Linked DNA regions of Homo sapiens. The protein of the gene in region 1 binds, or shares a complex with, the protein of each later gene. Each region holds a gene or a part of one and is shown on either strand. Other genes may lie near its edges.

Evidence for each region.
Region 2: the proteins of CD320 (region 1) and TCN2 are in contact, whole or in part, in a crystal structure (PDB 7QBF), measured with the Homo sapiens proteins. Residues at the interface, in NP_057663.1 of Homo sapiens: Thr57, Lys58, Leu66, Cys67, Val68, Pro69, Trp72, Asp75, Arg76, Asp77, Leu78, Asp79, Leu133, Glu136, Cys145, Ile146, Pro147, Thr149, Trp150, Asp153, Gly154, His155, Pro156, Asp157, Cys158, Pro159; in NP_000346.2 of Homo sapiens: Asp70, Leu71, His74, Lys77, Leu78, Gln81, Gln82, Glu91, Asp92, Arg120, Gly121, His122, Lys123, Asp125, Arg126, Val128, Ser129, Lys132, Trp133, Glu136, Arg140, Lys169, Arg170, His172.

What each region holds. Positions count from the first base shown.
Region 1 is NC_000019.10:8,306,069-8,309,974, reverse strand, and holds the start of CD320 (CD320 antigen isoform 1 precursor), read left to right. Parts: upstream 1-1,616; 5' UTR 1,617-1,684; coding exon 1,685-1,826; intron 1,827-3,906. UniProt on the Homo sapiens protein: Receptor for transcobalamin saturated with cobalamin (TCbl). Plays an important role in cobalamin uptake. Plasma membrane protein that is expressed on follicular dendritic cells (FDC) and mediates interaction with germinal center B cells.
Region 2 is NC_000022.11:30,605,072-30,608,977, forward strand, and holds the start of TCN2 (transcobalamin-2 isoform 1 precursor), read left to right. Parts: upstream 1-2,102; 5' UTR 2,103-2,260; coding exon 2,261-2,324; intron 2,325-3,906. UniProt on the Homo sapiens protein: Primary vitamin B12-binding and transport protein. Delivers cobalamin to cells.

The DNA.
Region 1 (3,906 bases):
CCCTGAGCCAGATCCCATTATGCTGGGGCTGTGGGATAAGAATGAATTCGCCCCAGAAGGAAGGCAGCTGGTTCCTGGGGAGGAGACAGAAATCTGCAAAGGGAGGGTGTCCAAGTCTGGCTGCAGGAGCCACCCAGTGACCCTACGCAGGGGAGTGTCATGGCTTCCCCAGGGCACAGCCCCAGACCCTTCAGCAGCTAAAAAAGATCAGCTGTGGACCAAGAGGGTGCTGAGACCGCCCTGCCCTCTGGAAGGGGAAAGGCCACGGCTACAGGCAGCAGGTACCAGTGTCCCAGAGTGGGTCCTACAAAGGCTAACACCTTCCTGGAGAAGGTGGGATTCTGCTTGGGGCAAAAGGATGAATCAGATTCAGAAAGGTCAGGAGGGAAGGAAAGACTAGGCAGGGTGTGCAGAGGCCACAAGGAGGGCAAGACCCTAGGCAAGGCATGCCGCTGACGGCATCTGAACCAAGTTTTATGACCACAACTTTTTTTTTTTTTTGAGACAGAGTCTCACTCTGTCACCCAGGCTGGAGTTCAATGATGTGGTCTCGGCGCACTGCAACCTCCGCCTCCCGGGTTCAAGCGATTCTCCCATCTCAGCCTCCCTAGTAGCTGGGACTACAGGAGCATGTTACCACACCCGGCTAATTTTTGTATTTTTGGTAGAGACGGGAGTTTTACTATGTTGGCCAGGCTGGTTTAGAACTCCTGACCTCGTGATCCGCCTGCCTCGGCCTCCCAAAGTGCTGGGGTTAACAGGCGTGAGCCAGCGCGCCGGCCAACTTTTCTAACAAATGGGGTCTCACTGTCACCCACGCTGGAGTGCAGCCCCAAGTGATTCTCCCACCTCAGCCTCCTGAGTAGCTGGGACTACAAATTAGAGCCACCATGCCCAGCTAATTTTCTTTTTTCTTGAGGCGGGCGGGGACTTGCTGTGTTGCCCAGGCTGATCTCGAACTCCTGGGCTCAAGCGATCTGCCCGCCTCTGCTTCCCAAAATGCTGGGATCACACACGTGACCCACCGCGCCCGGCCTTTATTATTAAATTTAATTAATTAATTGATTTCCTTTCCTTTTTCCCCCCCAAGCAACCCGACTCCGAGAATGGACGTTTCATTTATTCATTTACTCACCAAATGTTTACTAAGAGCCTACTATGAGTCAAGCACTATGTGTCAGATCCTGAGAATAAAGCAGTGAGCAACAGAAGATCCCTGCCCTCCAGTAGCTAGCATTCTATGGGGACTCGGACAACAAACCAGAATAAGTAAATAAAATAAATTACCTGTCGGCGCCACAAAAGCAGTGGGATGAGGGAGGAAATGCGGAGTGCCTGAGGGGCGTGGCTGCCATATTAAAGAAGATCACGAGGCAGTAACATTTGCAGCAGTCCTCATTTGGAACGGGAAATAATGCAAATGAACACCAACAAATTCCTTCCCATCCCCAGAAGTTTCTAACTTCAAGCGGGCTCCATACCTTTCAACTGATCTGGTCACTGGGGAAAGTGGGGACGGGCCTCTAATTCTCTTTTCCCTGCTATTCTGACATTTACGGTACGCGTAGCCGCGGGCGCCGCAGAACTCAGGGGCTTGGGCCCCGCCCCAACCCCGCGCGTGCGCGTGCGCAGGGATAAGAGAGCGGTCTGGACAGCGCGTGGCCGGCGCCGCTGTGGGGACAGCATGAGCGGCGGTTGGATGGCGCAGGTTGGAGCGTGGCGAACAGGGGCTCTGGGCCTGGCGCTGCTGCTGCTGCTCGGCCTCGGACTAGGCCTGGAGGCCGCCGCGAGCCCGCTTTCCACCCCGACCTCTGCCCAGGCCGCAGGTGAGTGACGCCCCGCAGCGCGGGCTCCCACCCCTCGCGAGGCTTCGCCCCGCCGCCGCGCACCGACAACGCCTAGTCACTGGCTGCACCGCACGTCAGTTCATGACACTCCCCCAGCACGTGGACTTGGACTTCATCGCTTGTGGGAAGGCGCGCACTGGTGCTAGGAAGACCCCATGCTGGGGGAGGGGAGGAGGGTGTCTCCACCTGCCTTTAACGGTTTTGCTCCGGCCCTGCACACCGTCTCCACACCTGCTGTGCCCTGTCGTCCCCCATTGTCACCTCCAAGCCGCCCTTCATACCAGCGTGGTCAGGAAAGCTCTTAGCAGGCTCAGATTGTCCGACCGCTAATCACGCAGGACGGGTCACCTGGTGCCTCTCGCACCTTTGCCTTCCAAACCCTCGCGCCCAGGCCTTGTGACCGTTCCGCAACCGTCCCTGCCCTCCCAGTCTCTCCTCCTTTGTCCTCCATCCTTAGAGAACGCGAGGTCTCTCCCCCCCATGCTACTGCAGGCTCTCGCAGAGACTGGGGTCACAAGTTGAATATACCCCCGTGGACGTGTTCGCCCTGGCCTAAGAGGTATTGGTGGCCAGTGGGGACGGGCTCCCTCTCTGATACCCCTAGAGGCAGCTGGAGGGTTGGAGTGGCCTCCCTGTGCACTCAGGCACTCCCAACTTGCAGCCCTGGGCTCAGGCTCACACACTTTCCCAGCTCCTTTGTGCATTCCGCACTTCTAGGTCCCTGGACTCATCCCAAAGTCCCTGACATTCACGTTAAATGTTCCTGGGTTTTTTTTTGTTTGTTTTTTTTTAAGGAGGCAGCGTTCACGTTAACCAAGTACAAAAGTTTTTGTTTTTTTTTTTTTGAGTCTCCCTCTGTCGCCCTGGCTGGAGTGCAGTGCAATGTTGGCTCACTGCACCCTCCGCCTCCCGGGTTTAAGCAATTCTCATGCCTCAGCCTCCCGAGTAGCTTGGGACTACAGGCACCGTCACCATGCCCGGCTAATTTTTGTATTTTTAGTAGAGATGGGGTTTCACCATGTTGGCCAGACTGGTCTCGAACTCCTGACCTCAAGTGTTCTGTCCGCCTCAGCCTCCCAAAGTGCTGGGATTACAGGACAAAACTCTATACACAGTCTCTTTTTTCTCAGGATGTTGAGGTAGGGATTCCCAGCATACCCCGTTTACAGGTGAGGAAACTGAGGCCAGGAGAGAAAGTCACTGGTCACTGTAACTCCTGTCAGGCTTACACCCTATGAGGCGGGGACTGCTGTGCTCTACTGTCCACTTTGCAGAGGGATACACACTCCCGCAGTCCAGCGAAGGGAGGTCAGAGGTGTCAGGGCTGTGGAAGTCTGCGCCTGGGTGGAGAGCCACACCTGGAGGCTGCCAGATCTCCCGGGGGCGGGGAAGGAAGCAGGCACCGGTTTGTCCACAGCTCTTCTGGGATCCATAGAGCTCAGGGACCCTGTGGCAAGTAGGTGCAATTAGGCCTGAAGGCCGAGGAGGGGCTGGCAGTGGGGAGTGGGGGGTTGGAGGCTCATGGCTGGTGGGTAAAGGTGGAAGAGGTTAAAGGCCTTGGCAGAGTGAAGCTAAGCCAGGGTGGCGGATTTGCCACCTCCCCTGGCCGCACCCAGGAGGAAGCCGTAAAGGCCACTCCCTTCCTCTGTCCCTTGGCCCAGGTTGCGGGCCCCTCCGTGCCCCTCCAGGTCGGCAAGCAGCTGAGCTTCCCTGCTCAGAATCTAGGACAGCCGGGATCTTCTCTGGACCCAGCTTGGACCCTTATGTGACCTGTGTCCACTTATAATCAGGCACTGCCCTGGGTTTAGGCGGCCAGGTCACAGCCCTGACCTCCACAGAATGTCCAGTCTGTGGGTGGACAGGCATGACCAGGGCTTTAAGGACAGTTGTTAGACATGGGAGGCAGTGCTTCCTAGGTCTCCAAGAGGGACATGAGAACCCTCCCAGGAAATCAGCTGAGATCTGAAAATTGAGGGGAAAACACAGGGTGTAGGGAGGAGAGAGGGAAAGGCAAGTCTCTGGTGTCCTAATGGACCTTGGGGCCTGGGGCCTGGGGCTC
Region 2 (3,906 bases), on another chromosome or scaffold:
CAACCTCAGCCTCCTGGGCTCAAGTGATCCTCCCACTTGTAGCCTCTAGATTAGCTGAGACTTACAGGCACACACCACCATCCCTGGCATTTTTTGGTTTTGTTTGTTTTTTAGAATCAGGGTCTCACCATCTTGCCTAGACTGGTCTCAAACTTGTGGGCTCAAGCAATCCTCCTGCCTTGGCTTCCCAAAGTGCTGGGATTACAGGCATGAGCCACCAGTATTTCTAATATGTATGGGAAATATGCTGTCTTCCTATTCCTACTCCCCCACCCTCTAGCACTGAGTCCAGGTAGGTAGGCAGGGGGGTGTCTCCCTCCTTTACTTCGACACCCTAACTACCTTGGGGATCAGAAGTGACTCTCTGGAAGGATGCTGCTGCTTCTCACCAGAGGCTGACGATAACGAAGGCTATCCTCCATGGCCACCTCCTCCAGGCTGCCTTCCTGGAAATAGGAATCATAATAGTTGTTACTGGAAACAGGCAGAGGGTTGGGGGAGCCAAGGCAGTCCCACCCAGGACCAAGGTGGCTCCATTGCACACACTTCACCATGACTCCCCTGAAGGTCCAAACGTGCGGTTCTGCGGAAGTTGGGCTCCCCACTGGCCTCCCTCCTTCCTCAGAACCTCCAGGGGTGCTCCTCCTAGTGGCCACATCCAGCCTTTCTGACTGGACAACCTATCATTTAAAATTTTCAAGTAGTTCCGTAAACAGACACACGTTGCTGTATTTATTTATGTCAAGGGCTTGGTTTGTGATAAATCAGGCTCAAAAAGATTGTCTTAAAAGAGTGAACCTTGGCAATTTACCATAAAATAATTGCAATGCAGATTGTGCATGGAAATGATTGGAGATATTTTAAGGTCATAGTGTCTTCACAAATTGAGCTGAAAGGGAACTGTTAGGATGATCTTGCCTAACCCTCTCTTCTCACACAGGAAGAACTATTTTAAACTCGAGAGGTTAAGTGACCTGGCCAAAGTCACACAGCCACCACTAGTTAACTCGTATACATTGATTCTCCTGTGGGGCTGGGCAGATGAGGAATCTTTTGTTCTCTTCCCTGTTTGCAGAGATTTTTTTTGAGGTTACTTTCCGAGTTCTGGCAAGTACCCCTGCTTCTGGTAGCTTTGTGTCTCGATTCAATCTCATTCTTTTTATTTTATTTTATTTTTGAGACAGGGTCTCACTTTGTCACCCAAGCTGGAGTGCAGTGGTGTAATCTTGGCTCACTGTAGCCTCCACCTCTTGGGTTCAAGCGATCCTCCTGCCTCAGCCCCCCAAGTAGCTGGGATTACAGACGTCTGCCACCACGCCAGGCTAATTTATGGTTTTTTGTATGTGTTTTTTGTGTTTTTGTAGAGACAGTGTTTCCCCATGTTGCCCAGGCTGGTCTCCAACTCCTGAGCTCAAGTGATCTGCCCGCCTCAGCCTTTCAAAGTGCTAGGATTACAGGTGTGAGCCACCGTGCCCGGACTTAATCCCATTCTTTAACTTGTTTTGTTTTGTCCTCTCCAGGAGGCTCCCAGCCCTTTCGGATTGGTTGAGAAAAGTGGCCTGGCTGGTCTGGGGCCAGCGGCACCCACCCTCCCCTCAATTGCCCAACTCCCCCCCCCCACCGAACTGCCCAACTCCCCCTCCCCAACTGCCCAACTCCCCCACCCCCACAATCCCCTCCCGCCACAACTGAGGGAGGCGGTGCTGAAAAACAGCTGACTCCAGCAATGCTGCTCACGTGACCACTGCAGCTGCAGCTCCCGTTCCACTCCTTGTCCTGGGCTAGGTGGGCACTACCAGGGGCTCCTTTGGTAAGGAGTACCGGGTAGGCACCCGGTCCTGCCAATCCACCACTGGAACAGCTGGGGGGACAGCAGACAGGCACGGTCGGACAGACTTGACAGATCAGGCATCAGGCCCTCTGCGCTGGTCCCGGGCTCTTTAAGCAGGAACGTGAATGGCCTCAAGATGTCTCACATGGTCCCACTAGCCCTCCTCCTCCCTTTGTTCCCTACCTCCAGGAGGGCTGCTCTGCCCTTCCTTCCTCTGTTCTTTGGCCTTATGTTCCCCGCCACCACAGACCTTCCCCCGCCCCACCCCTCTGCAGACTTAGCCGTGCATTGCAGGCATGGAGGATTAATCAGTGACAGGAAGCTGCGTCTCTCGGAGCGGTGACCAGCTGTGGTCAGGAGAGCCTCAGCAGGGCCAGCCCCAGGAGTCTTTCCCGATTCTTGCTCACTGCTCACCCACCTGCTGCTGCCATGAGGCACCTTGGGGCCTTCCTCTTCCTTCTGGGGGTCCTGGGGGCCCTCACTGAGATGTGTGGTGAGTAACTCGCCTCTATCCTGTGCCTCTTTCCTCCTGGGTCCTTAGTGGGGTGGCTAGGGCATAGGATGAGGGAACTTACCTGCCCTTCTAAGCTCCCATAGCAGTTTGGGCTTAGCTGGACCTCAGCATTTAACACATCCTATTGTGATTGATTATATGTTTGACTCCTCACCAGACAAGATCTCCGTTAATTCAGTCATTCGTTCACACATTCATTCAGCGCATACTGAGCCTTTTCTGTGTCAGGCCCAGTGTTAGCCTTTGGGGAACGTGCAAAGCATGAGACAAGTCTAATCCCTGCCATCCTAGAGCTTATGTTCTAGGGAAGGGGGACAGACAAAAGAAATGGTTAGGTGCTCCCACCTGAAATCTCAGCATTTTGGAAGGCTGAGGCGGGAGGGGAGGATCGCTTGAGCTCAACAGTTCAAGGTCAGCCTGGGCAACATAGGGAGACCCCATCTCTACAAAAAATAAAAAAAATTAAAAAATAGCTGGGCATGGGGAAGACTTTCTGAAGACCAAGAGGACACATGGGAGCTGAAACTCGAAGGAAGAAAAGGAGCTGGCAGGAAAGGAGTGGGGGACACACATTCTAGGCAGCAGGAAGTGAGCCTTCGGAGGTCCTGCCTGCTCCAGCTCTGTGCCCCAAGGGGTCTCTTGGAGCACAGTCTCCTGGGACCTGTCTATGAGTCTGAGCTTAGAGGCTCAGGGCTGCTCCTTCAGACAGGAGGCAGAAGGCAGGCTTTGGGAACTTTGGGCCGCCCACGCGCCTTTTCTCCTCCTCTGCACCTAGGATTACGTTGAGCAATACACTTTCACCCCCATGGTCTCTTGAGACCCTGGGGAAACCCTGAGAGGTGGGTGCAGTCATGTCCAGGTGTCAAGTGAAGAAGTCGAGGGTTGGAGGGGCTGAGTGACCCACTCAGGGTGCTCCACCTTTTCCAGAGCTTTGCTGAACTTAGTTTTTAGAACTTGAAGCCTCGTTTGTTTTCGTTTTGTTTTTTGTTGAGAGAGGTTCTCCCTCTGTTGCCCAGGCTGGAGTGCAGTGGCACGATCTTGGCTCACTGCAGCCTCTGCCTTGTGGGTTCAAGTGATTCCCCCACCTCAGCCTCCCAAGTAGCTGGAGACTGCATGTGCATACTACCATGCTTGGCTAATTTTTGTATTTTTTTGTAGAGACAGGGTTTCGCCATGTTGCCCAGGCTGGTCTCGAACTCCTGGGCTCAAGTGAAACTCTTGCGTCGGCCTCCCAAATTGCTGAGATTACAGGCGTGAGCCACCGTGCCCGGCCAGAACTCCAAGCCTCTCATCTGTGTTCCATAAATGCAATCAGACACCTCAGGTCTGGGCCCAGGAACCCCAGCTCTTGGTTCATGTCCGGACAGTCCCCAGGGGAGTTCTGGGTTCAACCAGCAAGAGCTCTTCCTCCTGGCTGATCTGGTCCTCAGCCTTGGACAGTTAGTCCATTAACCTGACCCCACAGGAGCCCCAATCCCTTGGGGTCTGGGGAATCTTGAACTGGGGTTTGGGGTGCAAATATCTGCACTGAGTCACTTAATTGCACCCAGCCTCATTCCTT